2 separate regions of the Homo sapiens genome follow, and region 2 is linked to region 1. Evidence: fine-mapped expression QTL. Tissue or cell type: cerebellum. Region 1 holds a variant in brackets; the other region holds the start of a gene. All regions are shown on one strand. Distances are between the middles of the regions.

Region 1 (10,960 bases):
AATCCAAAGCATAGCTTGTAACTCCTTGATGTTGAGAAGGTGCAGCTGGGCATTTTAACAATTTAACAGTAGAATAGAAAAGCAAAGATTTCAAAAACTATAATTATGTTTTTACAACTTTAGTTTTAGGAGCATTGCTCATTAGTTGCTAATTAATCCATATATCTGGTGAAACAGATGAATAGCATGTATTTGGTTATCATATAAGCATTGTGAATCCAAGTTAACATGTTACTTTCATTCTTTCTAATGTAATTATTATGCTATTATCAATTTGTTACCATGCAGTAATCATGCAGTTTTAAGTTACTGCTTAAAACCCAGAGTGAGGCATAGAAATTTATGTCGAGCTGGACAGAGCTGAATGTCAGCCACATGGTAGCAAGATAGATGCTTTGCATCAGGGTCATTTCTACTATTATAAAGCTTGAAAAAGGATAGAACAAGAAGAGTCATGGTTGTATGGATGTTGTTATGGGTTTGAATTAGCATATGTAGGACATTCCAGTACAATTAATAACCACTCAGTTAATTGGTTGGGGTGAATTCTCTTTTAGTGTTTCATTTACCTTATAATTAGCTGTAACTCAGCAATTAAGTCATGACACCAGCCCACTGTGACACTGAAGGTTGGAGGATAGTGCTTGGGTGCATTCTGCTCATATTAAGTCAGAGTTGTTGGTTTCCTAAGTGCCTCTCATTCTCTTTTAGGTTCTTCAATAAATCTATGTGTTATTCATATGTAGTCACAAATGCACTGAAACAAATGCCGTCTGCCCCAAGAATCTGCAGATTCCACATCTGCAGATTCATTCAGTCAATGGCATATTGAAAATAATATTCTGAAAAAAATGCATGGTTGCGTCTGTACTAAACATGGATAGCATTTGTTTTTTACTCATTACTCCCTAAACAATAGAGTAAAACAATAGAGTAAATGCTATTTATGTAGCATTTATATTGTATTAGGTATTATGAGTAATCTAGATATGGTTTAAAGTATACAGGAGGATGTGCATAAGTTATAAGCAAATACTATGACATTTTATGTAACAGACTTGAGCATCCTCTGCTTTTGGGGTCCACAGGGTGAGGGGATTCCTAGAACCAGTCCTCCATGGGTATTGAGGGACAACTATAATTTCATACAGGATTTTGTGATTGTAGCAAACTGTAAAAATTGTTTCATGTTCATGTACTATCTTTCTAAAACTAGAATTCAGGTTACATATACACATATAAATACTTTTTCTCATTGGTTCTTTTAGAAAAACTTTTTAAGACAGGAGGATTTTCTTCTTGATGTTGTTGCTGCTATTATTCTGTCAACTTATTCTTAAATAACTTGTTTTAACTGAAATAAAACTGAAATATTTTTTGAAAATTCCCCTAAATTCCTGCTTTAGAAAATAGCCTGTATTGTTTGTTTTTAAAGCTATATATGCTTTTATTTGTTACCAAAATAAAACAAGTGTGTTTAAAAATATTTAAGACTAGAGAAAATGGAAAAAGTGTGTAAAATAAAAGTTCCATGTAATTCTATCCTCCAAAGACAACTACTTAATGGATTCTAGTTTTATGTCATGCTTAAGAAACCTTTTCTTCCACTGATTAAAATACACCACTAGTACATAGAGTAGAAAATTTCAAGTCTGTAGTGAAGAAAAAAAATCACTTACAGTTCTACCATTTGGAGTTGAGCACTATTGGAATGTTTGTCATTCCTTTTTTTTTTTTTTTTTTTTTTTTTTTTTTGAGACGGAGTCTCGCTCTGTCGCCCAGGCTGGAGTGCAGTGGCGGGATCTCGGCTCACCGCAAGCTCCGCCTCCCGGGTTCACGCCATTCTCCTGCCTCAGCCTCCCAAGTAGCTGGGACTACAGGCGCCCGCCACTACGCCCGGCTAATTTTTTGTATTTTTAGTAGAGACGGGGTTTCACCGTTTTAGCCAGGATGGTCTCGATCTCCTGACCTCGTGATCCGCTTGTCATTCCATTTTTCAGTGATACATGTTACAGAAACTGTCCTTATGTTTGTGTACCTATACAGATAGCTAACGTATCATCTATACACTTTAAACAAAAGATGTCAAACTACACACACTTATATAATTTGCTTTCTAAACTAAAATGGAGTGATCATTTTCCTGTCATTTATAACTTGATTTTTAATGGCTGCATACTATTCTATCATATAGATATTTAATATTTAACCATTTTTCTTGTTGTATATTTAGTTTTTAGGTTTTTTTGCTTTTGCAAATAATATATTTATAGATATATTTTTGCTGAATATCCTTGAAGATAAATATTTTTACATGCCTATTATTATCTCCTTAGGCTAAATTCCCACGTGTGTAGTGATTTTTAAAGAACAACAAAAATATGCTCAATTCACATGTATGAACTTATGGGATTGATGAGTGGATGAGAAAGAACCCATCAGATTTTCAGAATGACTTCAGCAAGTAAATTTGAAGATTCCAAATTTCAGGCTTTTAATTTAAATAGATAATCTAGCTTTAAACATTCTGCATTTAGGTACTTAAATATTTTGGTTGAATATATATTAATAATCACCATATTTGTGCAGAGGAAGCCTATTGTGCATATTTTAATACCAACCTTATTTATGCCATTGAGTTTTCTATCCATTGATTTTTTGGAACTGTGTATATCACACCAAAATCCAAATCCAAAGTGAAAAAGATAGTCAAACACAGGTGTTGTGGGATACACAAAAACAAGCAAAACTAGATTTTCTTGGAGAAAAAGGGTATGATGACTTCCCAGGATGCTTTAAATTTCTTTCTTGTTTTTAGCTGACCTCACTCTAGGAAGAGAAAATAAATTATATTAGTTATTTTATTTCCAAATAAAAGCAAAAATTATAACTTGAAAATATAAAAGGGTATTACCTCAAATGTTGATTAAAACAATAGTTATATGACTAGAATAAAATTTGGACTTTAACATGTAGAAACTGTAATAGCTACTGTTTAGTGTGCTCATAGTAGGTACCTAACATGGCCCTAAGAACTTCTTCTCATTCTTATTAATCTTTATTAAGGCCAGGATAATAATATATGCATGGCAGGTCTGAATGCTTCAATTTTAAATGCTTCTCAAATTATTCATCTTTTTGATGTTTTAGATCCAGGAAACCTTTGGATGCCTCCCCACAATTTATTAAATTTTTTCAATGTGTTAATCATTTCCTTTATTATTTTTATAGAAATTATTTTAAGTGTGATTTGGCACGACCTGTAGCAGAAATTTTAATCATTTCATTCATCTTTTTACTATCATAGTTTATCTGAGACATAATGATTTTTATGACTTCAATGACACCTGAAATGAAACCAGTACTCTAAAGTAGTTTTTGTTTAACATGATTTGATTCTTTTAGAATTTATGTTTTGCCAGAGTGAATGAGGAATTCAGATATAATAGTGACTGTACAGTAATGAGTTTCATTTCTAGCTAGCTATTTTTATCCAAGGAATTGGTATTCTCTAAAATGACAATTGTAAAAGATGACTAAAATTATTTTTGAAACATTTTTAGACTTGATATACCAGGGTTCCACTAGAGAAACAGAATCAGTAGGCTACACACACATACACTGAGACAGACAGAGAGAAATAGAGATTGAGAGAGAGAGAGAGAGAGAGGCAATGAGTTGGGTTCCAGGATTTTGGGGGCTGGCTAGGCAAGTCTGAAATGGGTAGGGTGGGCCATTAATCAGGAAGGGCAGGCTGGAACTCTTGTGTCTAAGCTGAAGCGGCTGTCTGCAGGTCAGATTTCTTTATCAGAGAAGCCTCAGCTCTGCTGTTAAGGCCTTTGAATGGATTGAACCAGGCCCACCCAGATTATCTAGGATAATCTTTACTTAAAGTCAATGGATTGTGTATTTTAATCACATCTACAAAATACCTTCACAGCAATACTTAGTGTTTGGTTTAATAGCTAGGGGCAGTAGTCTACCCAAGTTGACACACAAAATCTCACCATCACACTTGATATCTGAACCAGTTCAATGCTCATATAGAAACACCCACTTCATTAATAGGTAGTTATAATTTATCCATGATAAAAACCAGAAATACCCAATTTGACTACTTAATGCTGGTACTAGTTTGGGCTATACACAGTTTGCATGTTACAAAAAGTAAATCTACCCTTGAAATAATAATATTTACCAGAGTTGAGAATATTGAAAAGAAGGTATGCTAGGCTATATTTAGGATTTTTATAAAGTTTCGAGGAATGGCAGCATCATTGGGATACTGATCGACTTCCCAAATGATGTAACTGGACAAACGGTCATTTAAACCTGTGCTTCTTAAGCGGGGCTCATAACTCCCCTGAAATATATTCTTATTTTCTTCTGCCATTAGAAGGACTTTAGTAGAAAATACCAGAGAAGCATTGCTTTTATTTAAGGTAAACCAGGGGTCAGCAAACCCTTTTCTGTAAAGAGCCAGACAGTAAATATTTTCAGCTTTGCAGGCTGTACAGTTTGTTACACTATTTAACTCAGCTGTTGTAGCATGAAAGCAGTCATAGACATTACATAAACTAACAAGCACGGCTGTGTTTATAAAATGTATTTACTAACACAGGCAGTGGGCTGGATTTTGCCTGCAGACTGCATTTTCCTATCCCTGATGTAGACAGGTCTGGTGTGTTGGTTAAATAGTCGCTCTGTTTGTAATACCATACATATCTAGTGACAGGATGTATTTCAGCACAGTTTAGGAATTGGTCAACTATTGAACACCTTCCATTTTTCTGCTATTTTATTTTATTTTATATTTTTATTTTATTTTATGTTGAGACGGAGTTTTGCTCTTGTTGCTCAGGCTGGAGTGCAATGGCACGATCTTGGCTCACTGCAGTCTCTACCTCCCAGTTTCAAGCGATTCTCTTGCTTCAGCTTCCAGAGTAGCTAGGATTACAGGCACCCACAACCACACCTGGCTAATTTGTAATATACATACATATATATATTTTTGTTTGTTTGTTTGTTTTTTGAGATGGAGTTTTGCTCTTGACGTCATCCAGGCTGGAGTGCAGTGGCACAATCTTGGCTCACTGCAACCTCCGCCTCTCTGGTGATTCTCCTGCCTCAACCTCCCGAGTAGTTGGGATTACAGGAGCCTGCCACCATGCCCAGCTAATTTTTTTGTATTTTTAGTAGGGATGGGGTTTCACCATGTTGGCCAGGCTGGTCTCAAAACTCCTGACATCTGGTAATCTGCCCACCTCAGCCTCCTAAACTGCTGGGATTACAGCCATGAGCCACCGTGCCTGGCCACATTTCTCTGCTATTTTAATAAGAACATAGAATAGAATAAGTATAGGAATGGGGTAGTGTTCAATCTATTAGGGGATTAAAGCTATTATATATAAAATTATTAGCACACAATATAGAGTTATGATATATATTTTATATGATTATATAGCATGACTTATTAAATATATGTAATGAAGCATATTCTCTTAATTCTCAAGAAAGAAAAAAAGTAAGCATTCATGTTTGTTTTGTGGCTCAGCACAGAAGCTAGGCCAGGTGCAGAGATTTCCTTGTGAGCATATG[G/A]AGGCAGCACTAAGGCAAGCTGGTGGCTGCCAACTTCCTGGCTTTGGTTCCGCCTCCCATCTCCTCCTTATTAACAAACGACAATAATCAAAGAAAAAGGAAGCTGAAACATTATTTGAGCATGTATGTAGAGGACATAGGCATTTGGTAGAATATCATAGACATCCAAATACTTGAGTCTGAGATTCTAAATTCAGTAGCAAAAATGCTACTTTTTACTCTAACACTATGTAGTCAATCATAGTTCAGGCACAGGCTAAGAAACCAGCAGATTTTCCAATTCCTAGAAAAATGACCTAGGGAATAGCACTTACCATCTTTAGGTATTAGTTTCTTCATCTGTTTTAGTCATGCCTTGTGTTAGTGATCTTTAAGCTGGAGCAGATCAATTCCCATGTGTTAGAAAGATGACTCAGGTGGCAGTGTAGAGTTTGGGTTAGATTGGGTGCTGAGAGATGGCATCTAGGAGACAGGTTGGGGGGATATGATCATCCAGGTAAGAAAAAGGAAGATTGGACCACTGAGGGCAACACAGATGGAAAGAAATCCAACTGGAAATACCTGTGAACACATGCTTGGGTACAAGCTTTATGTGAACCCAGGGTGAGTAATGCTGTGGGATCCTTCCAGTGTAAGAAGCCCTTAGAACAATGGTTAGGAACTCAGGCTTCAGCACCAGTTGTACCTGAATTCATATCCTGGGTCTGCCACTGTCTATCTGCGTGACTTTGGACAAGTGACTTAAGTGATTTAATCTTCACTTTCTTATCTCTAGATACAGACAGGATAATAACACAAAGTTGTGAAAATTTACTAAGACACCATGTAAAGCATTTAGCCCATTGCTGGTTGTTTTATGAAGATTCTATGAGTGTTTGCTGCCATTATTATTATTCATTATTATTATTTGTGGGAGGAAGTAAAGTTCAAGTACCAATAATAATTTTCAACCATTACAAATTGTGATTATATAAAAGTTTTAAAAATTTCTCAGGAACCAGGGAGCATTCTATTTTTCATTCTAATTTGAGAATAAAATTATATTTTATGTTTTTACTTTTCTCAAAAGCGGTAGGAGCAAATCAGTTTTAGGTTGTCATTTTTTCTGTTTCCAGGTTTTTAGAACAGTAGATACCTGTTCTCTGTAATTTGGTATGTCTATCTGTGTAATGCTTAAGTCAGTCCTGGCGCTTGTTCCTAAGAAAAGGAAAATAAGAGGCAAATACATATTGATTCTGTACAAGAAAAAGAATAAAGGAAGGGAGAAAAACACCAAACGTCACTAGTGCTCTGTGACAGAAGAGAAAAAGGTTGTGTTTCATAATACACTGAGGTAGACTTTATATTAAAAACATACTCTCCCCAATACTCTGCAAGTTGGATTTTTTTGAATATTTCTTTTCATCAGCTAGGTTCTTATTTTATTTTATTTTCTCTGCAGCTGTTGGTCTGTCTCATGTTACATTCCCATCATTTATGTATCTGGTTTTGCCTGTGATGAAGCTGAGAAATGTCTCATTTTAATGGTTTCTGTGTTTTGTGTCTGTCTGTTTTCCAGTTTTGGGGAGACATTTAAACCAGTAGTCATGTCATCTCATGTAATGACATGCCTCTCTGCTTATTCTCCCTTCTGTTACCAAACAATATTTATGGCTAGCGTCTGTATGCATGTGTGCGATGACTATTTGCTATACAGTTGCCTAGAGCACTGTGAAACTCCACATGTTCAATGGAGTGATTTCTTTTTGTTTTTCTGCATGCTATCAAGTACTCTCAAAGTGTTCCTTCGGCTTTTTGCATGAAAGATAGCTAGAGGATAGAAAGGGACATTCCAGTAAATTCTACTTTGTAGCAAATTGAATATAGAGGTTTTTCTTCCAGTAATGTTTTCCTCCCGATTTTTATGTAGAAAGTGTTTTGTTAAAATTCTGGAAATGAAACTCAGAAAGGAAATTAAAAGAAAAGGGAAGAATTGCATCAATTATGACAGATAAGAGATTAACGTACTTACTAAGAGCTTTTATAAATTAGTGCCATTCCAATAGAAAAAAAGGCAACACGAACTAGTAATTAAATTAAATTTAAAAAATTAATTAAAGCATTAAAAACTAGAGAAAATAGACATAGAATTTTAAGCCTAGCTAGTAATCAAATAACCAAACTTCCCTCCTCTCCCCTCCCCTCTCTTCCCTTCTTCTCCCTCCCCCTTGTTTTCTTTTCCTTTCTTTTTTCTTTTCTTTCTTGAGCAGGGGCAGGGAGGAATGGTTTCTTTCTTTTTTTTGTTTTATTTTCTGTATTTTAAAAAATGTTTTGGGAAAACAACTTTGAAAAGCAAAAGCAATCTCCATCCATTTTGGGGATACACATTTGTTTGTTTCTATAGTAACATGATGGTTGGCCTTCCAGTGGTAATACTCATTTGTAATACAACTGGGCCAGAGGTACCTTCTGAGTTCATGGCACAGGATTTCTTAGAGTGAGGTTGACTGACTCATTCAAACCTAGGACTGTAGCTTCATTAACCTTGAGTTTTAACCAATTACTGATCCACCTCAAGAAACATTGTCTGCATTCTAAGGATCTAGGCGTTAGACAATTGCTAATTAAAAACATGAAATTTCTTTCTTTTTCCTTCTGCATTACAGATGAATAGATTATTCACCATGAGGGATGACCATTTTGGACACTATTTGAGATAATAAGAATAGATGTTTAAGAGGGGAAAATGCCATTTACATGGGCTAGGAGCATTTTTATTAGGGATGAATTTAGCTTGAGATTTGTTTGGTAACAAAAAGCACCTGGAATTTAGATGCATCTTTTAATAGATTTTTTTTTTAAACTGGCTTGCCAATATTTGAAAATATCAGTGCTCCAGTTTCCACCGACTGTTACCCGTAGACATTACGTAAAGCCAGATGCATTTGTGATTTAACCGGAGTTCACAGCCCAGGACCTGAGGAGATAATTTTAGGTACTTTCTGGAAAAATAACTGGTCCTTAGGTACAAATGCAAAGCCAAACGTAGTTATTGGAATTGAAAATAATAAAGCCAAGGGCTTATTTTGGACAACCATGCAGCTGGAGCAGCTGAATACTAAAATAGTGGCCTGTGTGGTGGTTTCCCCTGTGGCTTCTTATCTCCGTGGGTTACACACCCTCACCCAGGGGAAGACAGCCTTCTTAATGCAGCTTGCAGCAGGCCTTCTTTTGCGGGGCAGATTTTCCTCAGAAGAGAAGTACATTAGTCATTGAACTGTTAGAGAATATAATGAAAAGAAAAACCTAACTTTGGATCAGATTTGAATTTTACTACCCCATGGCCTGTAGCTGCTTCTCTGACTCAATATATTATCTTCCTTTAAGGCAAACTATTTAGTTTTCAGTTAGTAGAGGGTTTCAAAACAAAGCAAGTAGATTAATAAAAAGTGTAAAAATCAGAATAAATAGAATAGAAAATAGATTTATTTTTATTTTGTCATGTAATCTCGGCTGATAAAACAGGAATATACATATGTGTGTAGTGGTCAGTTTCAAAATCATGCCAGTTAAAGTTCTCTGTGTTTTAATTTTTCTTAAAGGCATATATAAAAAAGAATCTCAGAGAAAGGAGACACATTCATAATGATTAACCATACATACATCTTTAAAAGTTTGGTGTAAGAATGAACCAGTATTATACTTCATAGAAGGGCTGATTGTTCTTGCAGCAGAAAAAAGATATGAGTTTTATTCATAATTTACTTACTAACTCATTCAATGCCATTTATCTTTAACTTAAGTCACACTTAATGATAAATGCTCTCCTCTTTACTGCCAGACTGCCTGTAGAAGTAGCTGAGCTGGCTGCCTTAATTTCCTTACTATTCACTGTCTTTAATCACTTCAAATTTGACTTTGGCCCCACTTCACCAACATGCCCAGACTCTCGCCCTTTATGTCACATTGGGAAAGCCACATCCTGTTGAATTTAACTCTGCAACATCTGATATGCTCAACTCCCCTCTCTGGTGGTATTATAGGCGCTCCCCTCTGAAATAATTCCCGCAGCTGCACATTTTACACACTCTACCCCATTGCTACCAGATGTGTCTGTCTTTGTCACATCTCTGGTTATGAATGGTATCTTCTTTCTGCCTGCTATATGAAGTCCACTTTTCTTGGCTTGGCATTTGAGCCAGCATTCTCTCCCACTGCTTCTCATCCGCCCTGTTTTCCAATCCAATTCCTTTATGTATGCTGTGATATCTACCTAGAGTCCATACTCTCTCTTCTTTCCTCTCTAATCTCATGTTCAAAGCTTATCCTTCTTTCCAAGCCCAGAAGGAAGGACATCCCATTCATTAACCTTCTCTAACCCTCCTAGCTGGAAGTAATGTTTACTTCCTCTAGATTTTATCTGTACTTCTCTTCTGAGATGTTTCATATTCTGTGTTATTTGTGTAGCCATCTCATTTTCCTGTCTCAAGGGTAGGATCAGTCTCATTATCATGTTATTTTCTGCCCCCAGTGTCTAGTTCAGTGTATGATACTTTTTATAAGCTAAATATATTTTAGATATTAATAAATGTAGAGCATATATGAAAGATGTTTTAGAATATAGATGTTATTCCGTTATACTTGTTAATATTCTTCTTACATTTCTTAGTTATTTCCATGCATTTTAGATTTAACAATTATCTGTTCAAACAGTTGATTATTGTGAGTATTTTGAACCCTTTTATTAGGTTCCAGCACATTAAGTAACGAATTGCCGTATTCAGCTTTGTAGCATGTAATCTTCCAAATCTTACTATTAAAGTTTCTGTAATATTTTTTGGTATAACTTCCAGTATAGGAAGAGTAAATGAGAAGCTAGTGAACAAATTCCCCTTAAGATAATGGAAAAGTCCTAGCACATTTTGCATGGCTGATGCTGTGAAGAGCCCTTTGGAGTACTCCAGTATGAAGACAAGAACAAATGGGAGTGTCCTTTTATACCACTCACTCCAGCCACCCCATAAGAGCATGTAATAGCTCTCTACAGTGACACTGCACCTTGCAAGAACTGAGCAATCCAAACATTTCAATTCCCCAGAGCACCAAGCACTAAGTAAGAAAAAAAGGCCAGTGCGTATAGTACATACAGATAAGCATAAAATAATTACCAAGGGAAGGCCTTACCTTTGGCCCTCAAACACAGCTGTTATTTTACGTAGTTCCAGTGCACATCTTTTAGGGCTGTACTTAGCACCCTTCTCAAGGAAACATTCCTTTATGCACACTCTGTCACTCACTCCATCCAGCCCATGGCTGAGTTAAGAGTACTAGCTCTATATTTCCAGCAACACCAGAATTATAATTGCCTGCCAATTTGTCTCCA
Region 2 (9,480 bases), 130 kb before region 1:
TCTAGATTCCATCCTTTAGTTAGACACTGGGATAAAAGTAGGAGTGCAGTAGGGGTGGGGCCTTAAATAATTTTATGCAAGGAACGAGTTATCGGATTTGTGCTTTAAAAGGTAACTGGTAGAGAAGTGTGGAAAGTGGATGGAAGGAGGCAGTGGTGGTGCTTGCCGTGGTGCAAATAGAGGCAGGGAGCCCACTGCCTTGTTCTCTATGAATGATGATCAGGCTATCACCAAAGGCTGAGAGAAGTGGCGGCCTGAGTCTTGATGTACAGTGGAATATAGAGAGGAAAGGAGGTACATGATGCTCAGATTTCTGAATTAGGGAACTGGAAGGATGGTGCCCATTCCTTGATGGAACTCTAAAAGGAACAGATGAGGGTGAAGAGGTAATGCATTCCATTCTGCATGTGATGAGCTTGGTGATTGTGTGCCATTCCACTGGGTGATTATCAAGAGGTAGTTAGGCATATCTGGGGTGTCATTATTTCATTAACGGTCCCACTCAAGAGCCCCCCCCTTATCCGTGCTCTGCCTGTTTTTTTTTGTGTGTGTGTGTGAGGCAGAATCTCACTGCTACACCCAGGCTGGAGTGCAATGGTGCAATATCGGCTCACTGCAACCTCCACCTCCTAGGTTCAAGCAGTTCTCCTACCCCAGCCTCCCGAGTAGCTGGGACTACAGGTGCGTGCCACCATGCCCGGCTGATTTTTGTATTTTTAGTAGAGACAGGGTTTCACCATATTGGCCAGGCTGGTCTCAAACTCCTGACCTCAAGTGATCTGCCTGCCTCAGCCTCCCAAGGAGTGCTGGGATTACAGGCGTGAGTCACTGCGCCAGGCCTGCCCTGCCTGTCTTATCAGTCACCAAGGCCTGTCACTTCTGCCTCCCCTCCCTTCCTTCCTCCCTTCCTTCTCTCCTTCCTTCACTCCTTCCTTCCCTTTATTTTTCTCTCTCTGCCTCTTTCTTCCCTTCTTCCCCTTCTCCCCGCCTCCCTCCCTCCTTCCCTTCCCCCTCTCCCTCTTTCTTTCTTTCTTCCTTCCTTTTCTCTTTCTTCTTTCTTTCTCTCCCTTTCTTTCTTTCTTTCCCCTTCCTTTCTCTCCCCTTCCCCTTTTTCTCTTCCTCCTTCTTTCCTTTCTTTTTCTTCTTTCTCTCTCTCCTTCCTTCTTTCTTCTTTCTTCCTTTCTTTTCTTTCTCTATCTTTCCTTTCTCTCGCTCCCCTTCCCTTCCCCTTTTCCTTCCTTCCTTCCTTCCTTCCTTCCTTCCTTCCTTCCTTCCTCCCTCCTCCCTCCTCCCTCCCTCCCTTCCTTCCTCTCTCTTTCTCTCTTTCTTTCGACAAGGTCTCACCCTGGAGTGACTGGCACAATAACAGCTCACTAAAGCCTCAAACTCTCAGGCTCCAGTGATCCTCCAACCTCAGCCTCCTGAGTAGCTGGTAGTACAGGCACACACCACCACACCCAGCTAATTTTTAAAATCTTTTTGTACAGACAAGGTCTCCTTGTGTTGCCTGTGCTGTTCTCAAACTCCTAGACTCAAGTGATTCTCCCACCTCGGCCTCCCAAAGTTTTGGGATTACAGGCGTGAGCCATCTACTTCCTTAATATTTCTTAAATCTCCACTTAAATAAATCTCTGAGTTGGTCATTTGGATTGGTGTGTGCAATGCCCCATAACTATGAACACCTTAGCGTTTCTAGTAGGCCCTTCAAAATGACTCAGGCCTGTATCTTTAGCTTTGTCTGTATCCACACCACTCTGCAGAGGCTGCACTCCAGCTATACTGAAGCAGCCACAGTTTGCAAGAGATTATGCTTACTCACTTCTGTTTTGAAGTGTTTTGAAGCACAAAGGCATGTGTACAGTCCCCACCACATGCCAGGATGCACACCAGGAGAGGCAATGATATAGGGCTGACTTCCCAGGAGCGCCTAGTAGAAAATTAGAAGATTGTGACTTAGCGGAGTCATATTCATGTCCATTCATTGAAGTTCATTGACAGCAAAAAGCCAGGCCTCCGGATGTTCATTTAAATTAAGTAGTCAATATCCTAATTCAGTGACTCGCAGAGAATCTGGTGGGTTATTTAATCATCACATAAAATAGGTGGTTCATGTACTCATGTTGAGGCAGGAGACTAGGTTCTGGAGGCAGGGAAACTAAGGACTTCCTTGAACTACATTGAAAGGAAAACCCTAACTTTCCACGCCTAAGTAACAAAAGGACCAGAGGCTACCTTTGACCTTTTCTGCCTAGTAGATGGGAAATTGGCTGTCTGTAACCAATCAGACTGACTGCGGGTCCAATCTTCATTTGCAACTTTGTAACTTCACTCCAGCCTCTGAATGGTTGTTGTCCACAACTAATCAGACTGTGGGCGAGTCTTCGTTTGCATAGAAGCATAACTTCATTAAGTACATCCCAGCCTCTGATTGGTTGTTTTTTGCAACCAATCAGATGTTTGCACAGGAGTGTTACCTTTGTATCTTCATTTCAGCCTCTGGTTGGCTGCTTTCTGCAACCAGTCAGACTGATTGCGGGCTACCACTTCATTTACGTGAGATGAGCATGAGTTGCCAAAGGGAAACTTCTTGGGGGTATTTGGACCCAAGAAGATTCTGTATTCGGCCTTTGAGCCGCTGCTCCGCCCGCTCCCACAATGTAGAGTGTACTTTCGTTTTCAATAAATCCCTGCTTTCGTTCTTTTGTCGCTTCTCTGGGTGTTTTGTCCAATTCTTTGTTCAAAACGCCAAGAACCTGGACAACCTGCAGTCACGATCCTTTACTGGTGACAATATTGTTTTATTTTACTGAGATTCCATGTATCAGTGTTAGACACAAAAATCATTTGGTCATGTGCTGCCATAAATAACTATAAAGAAAGTCTATGTGTGCCAATTTCACTTATTCTGGCCTGGATCTCACTGTAGTAGATCAAATGTGAGGAAGAAACAGTAGCCGAGAGAGGCTGGAATTAGTAAAAATTTAAGAGTAGTTCCATCCATTATGTATGCCGTAATAGGCCCTATATGTGAAAAGTTAAAGGAGCTTATTTAATTATGAAGGAAACTATTATACAAGTAAGCAAAACAATTTATAATAAAATATTCTTTATGCTCAGAATTTTAAAAATAGATGTAGACTGGAAAACCTGCAATTTCCTCATTACCATCTAATACATAGAAAGTCAAATCACTTACGGACAGAAACAGACTTGAAAATTTCAGCTGAGAAAACATTTTAGAATAAAAGAAACATTTTATTCAGCACAGTCAAAACAAAACAAAAACAACAAAACAATGTTTAAAATGGACTTTCTGTTAGAGGTGGCCGTTTCACAGTCAAAATTATCCCAGAGAATTGTTTATATTAAAAACAGGCTGAGAATAGTTTGACCTCTGATCACCAAAAAACCTGGAGGATAAACATTCATCTGTCAAGATTTCTCTGGAAAATCCCTGCGCTGCTTCAAAGAGACAGAACAAAGGTAAATAGCATCTGCCACCCAAATCTTGCTGAATAGAGTGATTTATCTTCAGGCCTACTAGCCGGCGACAGGAGCGCACCTCCTCCCTTCTCCTAGCTGTCCCGGGTTTATTCATTCCCTGAGCCTGAATCCTGATAAGGGAGCAGAGTAGGGTTTAAGACCTCGGACCCCAGAATACACCACTGCAATTGAATTTTGGTTCCACCTTAAGGTAAACTACGCAGCTGCTGTGAGCCTCAGTTTCCCTACCTATAGAAAGAGGATCGTAGTGGGGAATTGTTGCAGGGGTTAAATGAGATTGTACGGATCGTGGAGCAGCGCCTGGCGTGTGGTAAACGCTCAACTTATGCGGGTTGTAACTGCCTGAGGCGTTTCCTTCGGCGCGCCACTTGGCCTTCTCTTTCTAAATATTAGCATAATAAATATAAATGGACCCAGAACGCGAGGGGGCAGGGGCCACGTGATCGCTCCACGAAAGCCACTTGTAGGGACCTTTAGAGAGTTAGCAATAAGGCTGGAGAAGGAAAAGCCGGCGCGCCCGCGGCCCGCGCGATTTCCCGCCGAGCCCGCGTCCCCGGCGGCGGGCGGGCTCCGGGGGCGCCCGGGCCGCGGCGGCGGCGGCGGCGCGAGCTGCGCCTCCGGGCCGGTGAATCATCCCGGCAGACACCAAGAGCCGCGGCAGCAGAGAGGAGCGCTGAAACATGGCTGAAGCGGCCACGGGCTTTCTGGAGCAGCTCAAGTCCTGCATAGTTTGGTCTTGGACGTATCTGTGGACCGTGTGGTTCTTCATCGTGCTATTCCTGGTCTACATCCTGCGGGTGCCTTTGAAAATCAACGACAACTTGAGCACAGGTAAGGCCTGGGAGCCGGGCCCGCGGCGCCCACCCCTCCCCCGCCCCGGAAAGTTAGTGCAACTCGCGCGGGGCCGCGGCCAGGCGCGCGCTCGGGGACGCGCCGGGGCCCGCGCACCGGAGGCCCGCGGCTACCCGCCAGCAACGCGGCGGCTTAGGCGGCGGGGCCGGGCAGCTGGGCGCGCGGGGGCGGCCGGTGGCCTTCACGGCCCCGCGGAGGAAGAGCTGCGCCGCGCACAGCCCGCAAGGCGGGCCGGGCCGGGCCGGCAGCCGCCCTGCTGCGTCGCTGGTGGTCGGGAGACGGAGAAGAACGGGTGTCGCGGGCGAAGGAGTTCCCAGGACACCCCCTCGGGTGTCTGCGCCGGAACTCCGAGGGTTCCCCGGAGTTAGACCGAGTCCTTCCTCACGCCCTCCCGGCTGTGGGTGCCAAGCGGCCGAAGTGTGGTCGGGGAGGCGCCCTCCCGCCCGGCCGCGGAGGCCCGAGGGCGGCTGCCGGAGGGTGCTCGGCGGCGAAGCCCCCTGACCCGGCCGGGCTGTCCGGGCGGCGCCCTCCGTGGCCCGGAGTTGCGTCTTGCCGGGCGTGGGGCTGTCTCTCTGGTTGGGTAGTGGGGAGAGGGGTTCCCGAAGGCACTCTTGGGAGTGTATGGATGACGTGTCAGGTCACCAAATGGATTGTCGAAGGGACCGGAGGGAAGAGGGGAGAGCTGGAATTTCTGAGGGTTTCGGTTGCAGTTTTCAGTGATCTTTGCTCGTCTCCCTTCCCTGTAAAGCTACATATGCTCAGCAAGTGCCGCGTGCCTCCCATCCTTGGTCGGTGGTAAATGCAGGAGGTAATTAACAGGATCTTCACAAACTTGGAGCCAGCCCACTGAGTCGTTAAAAAAACACCCGCAAAGAAAACACACGAGCCTTAACACTCCAGAGAGTTCCGAAACACAAAGTAAATTTCGAGCTAAGGGTTACAGTCCTTTAAATCTGGAAATTTCAAGGTAGAGTGTTTTTGTTTTTGTTTTAAATTTTAATTTCACAGTACTGGGAAATTCTTACAGTCCTGAAGATATATACATATGTACACATATATATCTTCCCTTGTTAATCTCCATACTCTGGGAGTGCAAGTCTGGAAATGCATTTTCCTCAGGTGTTTAGCTGCATTAAAACGCTTTTTAAAACGCTTGAGATAATGTACTCATTTTGTTAGGAAACTTGTACCTTTCAGATACTAACTTAAGTATTTTGATTACTAACTTGAACTCATGTTCATATTTACATTTGTTTTGTAGTATCCCTCGGGATCGTGTCCCTGGGAGGCGGATAGGATTCAGCACTCTAGAATTGTCTCACCATTTGAATAGGTGCTGCTCAGCCCTTTTGAGTCTGTCATCGGAAAGACCATGGCTTTCTCGCTTTTCATCTTTTTGGATGGCTGCTTGTCGCAATATTGTCTTCTTCGCTTTAGACAAGTATGTCTCCAGGATACCTTCTGGTCTCAAAGTTCTATACCTTTAAGAAGTTGTTTGAATATATGTTTTAATGGAATTACGTATTTGTTGGTAACAGTGTTAGTCTGTTTTGTGCTGCTGTAACAGAATACCACAGATTGGGTAATTTTTAAAGAACACATTTTATTTCTTGTAGTTCAGGAGTCAGGGAAGTCTTGAGATCAAGGGACTGGCATGTGGGGAGGTCCTTCTTGCTGTCATCCCTTGGTGGAAGGTGGAAGGGTAAGAGAACATGAGAAAACAAGAGGGGGCCCACTTTCACTTTTATAACAAACCTACTCCCTCAATAACAAAATTAATTCATTCTTGAAGGCAGAGCCTTCATGACCTAATTACCACTCACAGGTCCCACCTTTCAACACTTTTGCACTTGGGATTTTCAAACACACTAGTTTTTAAAATATTAATGTTTCTCCTTATTACACACTTAAAATTTTATTTCATGATATACATTTGTATATCACATTTTCATCAGGTTAAATAATTACCCATGTATATATGTGTAAGTGTCACATCCAGTGCTCTGTGCAGATCAGGCAAGAAGCAAAATATCTACTGGGAAAATGTGTACTTCTTAAGGAAGGGCATTGTTAGGTCTTCTAGCAATTTAAATCTAGCATTTCTCAGAGATGCCTTTGTTAATTTGTGTAGGGGCAGTTCTAAGAGATAGCGAAAATATGAAGATGAACGTGCCATCCGGGCTGTACCTTGCTAGACACATGATAGAAGACCTGATGATGCTGGACTTTTCAGTTTGGTTTCATGCTCATTTCAGTCATAAAGAAAGATAAAAGGGGAAGCACACAGAGAGCACTCACCTCTCTGCTGTTTTTATGAGAGGGTAGCAGGATCTGGGGTGGGAGGAGGACTTTGGCATTAATTTTGAGACATGAAATTATAGCCACAAACCACCCTAGAACAGTTTAGGTTTTTCAAAAAACAGTTGCAGACATTAGAGGCCTATTTTCTTCCCTTTTAAGTAACAGTGAGAAGTTATAGTAGGAAAACTGCCAAAAGGTTGTTGTCAACTTAATTCCCTCCTTTCCTTGCCAATTCCCCTCCCCTTTGGGAAAAAGTTTCTGTACTGAAGTTATTGGCAAGGAAGGCCCAGGGAGAAAGAAGTCATTAGCCAGCACCCCTGAGAGGGGAGGCAGGAGCTAGCCTGGTCTAACTTGTCCTTGCAGGGAGGTCTAAAAGAGTTCTAACGGGACTAACTTTGCTGTTCTTCAGCCCTGTGGTGCTTACTCTTCCTGTGATGAAGGCAAGTGTGTTCCTGGAGAGGTTACTGAATCTGGAGCTGCTTTTAGGGAGTTGCAGATGGCGCAGGCCTCCCTTCCTCCTCAAGGAAGCCAAAGACACCATCACAATCAGGCAGCCAGGAGCCAGGGCTTCCATAGGCCCAGCTCTGTACCTGTAGGGGGATGGAATCTGCTAAAAGTGTTCTGGAGTCATTCTTGGATATCTGCTTGGTATCTTCTCAATATCTTGACCATCTGTGACAATTTTAATCCTCATTTGATCATATTTTATGGTAAATGAGCTTAACTCGATTTTTTTTTAATTTAGATGCCTCCTAATGTACTATAACAGGTGCTATGATAAGAAAGATGAATGAGTTTGTAAAACCCAGGGTAAATAAGGAGTTTACTACAAGAATACAACTTCCCATATGCAAGATGGGGCTGGGCAAGGCTGTGAGAGCTTCTCTTGAATTGAGCCTAAGAGGATGAGGAGAATTCCATGATTGAGGACTCAGAGGTGGACCTCCCAAACAAAGGGACAAAGTTGTGAAAGTGCAGGTCAGATTCAGAGAAGAGCTAATCGTGGAATTTAATTTAAAATAATAAAAGAAAAGGACTTTGATGAACAACCATACCGTTTTTAGCTCTTACATCGTGTAGTTTTCCAAGTAAAAATGCTTTGAATGCTGTTTTTGAGGTATACTACTTCCCTACTCCCACCAGCTTGGCTCGTGTGACCTTCGTTGCATTGAGCCAGTGCCATTTAGGGTAGGGATATAGTTCAAAGAATTCCACAGTATTCTCTTAGACCATACAGAGAAACCTTAACATTGGCAATCACATCTTGTAATGAAAATGAATTTTAAAAAAGAAAGGGGAGAAAACGAACATAATAGGAATAGTACATAGTGGCTAGCTTTGATAATAGTTTTTTTTTTTGTTTGTTTTTTAAGAGAGTCTTAGTATGTTACCTAGGTTGGGCTTGAACTCCTGGGCTTAAGGGATCCTCCCACCTCAGCCTCCCTAGTAGCGAGTACTACAGGTGTGTGCCACCATGCCCAGCTGCTGGTAACTGATTTTTGAGGCTCTGCTCTTGATTTGGATACAATAGTGTTAAAATAGTTTTATGATTTACTGAAAATAGAATGAAATTTTAACAAGGTTTTTAAAAGACCCCAAATAATATTACTTGTCAGTTTTCAAGTGAATTAATATCATAAAGCAATACTTTTCCAAAGGGCAGAAAATTAATTGTAGATTGGCACAGTCATGCAGGATATTATTAAAATAGGTGAGTCTTAAAAAATAGTACCATAACTTATACAGTGGTGTTGATGGCACTTTCTCATCTACCCTATGTTATAAAGTTTTTTGCTGCTGAATTTAAACACCTTTTCCTAAAACGGGCAACTTTGCTGTTTTTGCAAAAAGCAGCATAAGTGATTTTCCAATTCTTTTTCTATTTGCTGAAAAGCAAGTTTTCAAAGATCTTTGAAATCCGTTTTCATTCCTTTTGGAAAACAAATGTAATAGCCTGATCTAGGCTTAAAGTTATTTATTTACTTATGTTTGAGACAAGGTTTCACTCTGTCACCCAGGCTGGAGTGCAGTGGTGCAGTCACAGCTCACTGCAGCCTCAACCTGCAGGCTCAAGCAATCCTCCTGTCTCAGCCTGCCACCTCAGTCTTAGTAGCTGAGACTACAGGTGCACACCACAGTGCGTGGCTAATTTTTTTTTTTTTTTTTTTTTTTTGTAGAGACAGGGTCCCCTGTGTTCTTGAACTCCTGGGCTCAAGCAGTCCTACTGCCTCCACCTCCCAAAGTGCTGGGATTCCAGGTGTGAGCCACCGTGCCTGGTCAAGTTATTTAGAAGACTTTTTTTTGTGTTAATTAAGCTCATGAATACAGATGTAAAACTCTTATATTGTTGACGTGATATAGAACTTAGGCTGCAGCTCAGTTTTGGCATTTTTTCATGTTGAGAATTTTTGCTCTAAATTTACTTAACATTTAGATTTTAATTTACTTAAAATTTACATAAAATTGGATTTCCCTTCTAGAGGGTCTGGTTGCAGTTTACATAGGTCTTTTGCCCCTGTTGTGCCTGTTGTCTAAAATGTTCTTCCCTATCTGTAAATCCCACCCATCTATCAAGGACCAGCTGGCATGCTGCCTTCTGATCCTTTCAGCTGCAGAAAAGACAGGCTTACCTTGGAGATATTGCAAGTTTGGTTCCCGGCCACTGCAATAAAGTGAGTCCCATGAAATTTTTGGTTTCCCAGTGCATATAAAAGTTATAGTCACACTATATTGTATTATATTAAGAGTGCAGTAGCATTATATCTAAAAGACCAATGTATATACCTTAATTTAAAAATCCTTTATTGCTAAAAAAAAAAATGC

Which allele goes with the higher level. Positions count from the first base shown, and alleles are read on the strand shown. Sizes are in standard deviations (SD) of each study's normalised expression.
For the expression in cerebellum of the gene that starts at base 4,145 in region 2, G is the high allele of the variant in region 1 and A is the other (large effect, 0.79 SD a copy in GTEx).

The links. PIP is the estimated chance that this variant, and not a neighbour inherited with it, causes the effect.
Region 2: it holds the start of ST7, and the variant in region 1 is fine-mapped to the expression of ST7 in cerebellum (GTEx, PIP above 0.99). The same link has a PIP of 0.9 or more in cerebellar hemisphere.

Annotation. Positions count from the first base shown.
Region 1 is chr7:117,078,244-117,089,203 of GRCh38, forward strand. The region is part of intron 1 of ST7 (suppression of tumorigenicity 7); the gene reads left to right. It also overlaps a transcript of ST7-AS2 not described here. Among named protein-coding and RNA genes, the nearest start is that of ST7-AS2, 62 kb to the right of the region's middle. The variant G/A (reference allele first, on the strand shown) is at 5,599.
Region 2 is chr7:116,949,357-116,958,836 of GRCh38, forward strand. It overlaps ST7 (suppression of tumorigenicity 7), which reads left to right and starts at 4,145. Exons shown (of 16, transcript NM_001369598.1): 1 at 4,145-4,335. The coding sequence starts at 4,185. It overlaps ST7-AS1 (ST7 antisense RNA 1), which reads right to left and starts at 4,978. Exons shown (of 1, transcript NR_002330.1): 1 at 3,090-4,978. It overlaps ST7-OT4 (ST7 overlapping transcript 4), which reads left to right and starts at 4,492. Exons shown (of 5, transcript NR_002329.2): 1 at 4,492-4,753; 2 at 5,105-5,323; 3 at 5,618-5,797; 4 at 7,067-7,367. RefSeq lists a cis regulatory region at 702-1,027, enhancers at 3,691-3,800, 4,216-5,139 and silencers at 4,061-4,130, 4,341-4,540, 4,601-4,900, 6,498-6,757.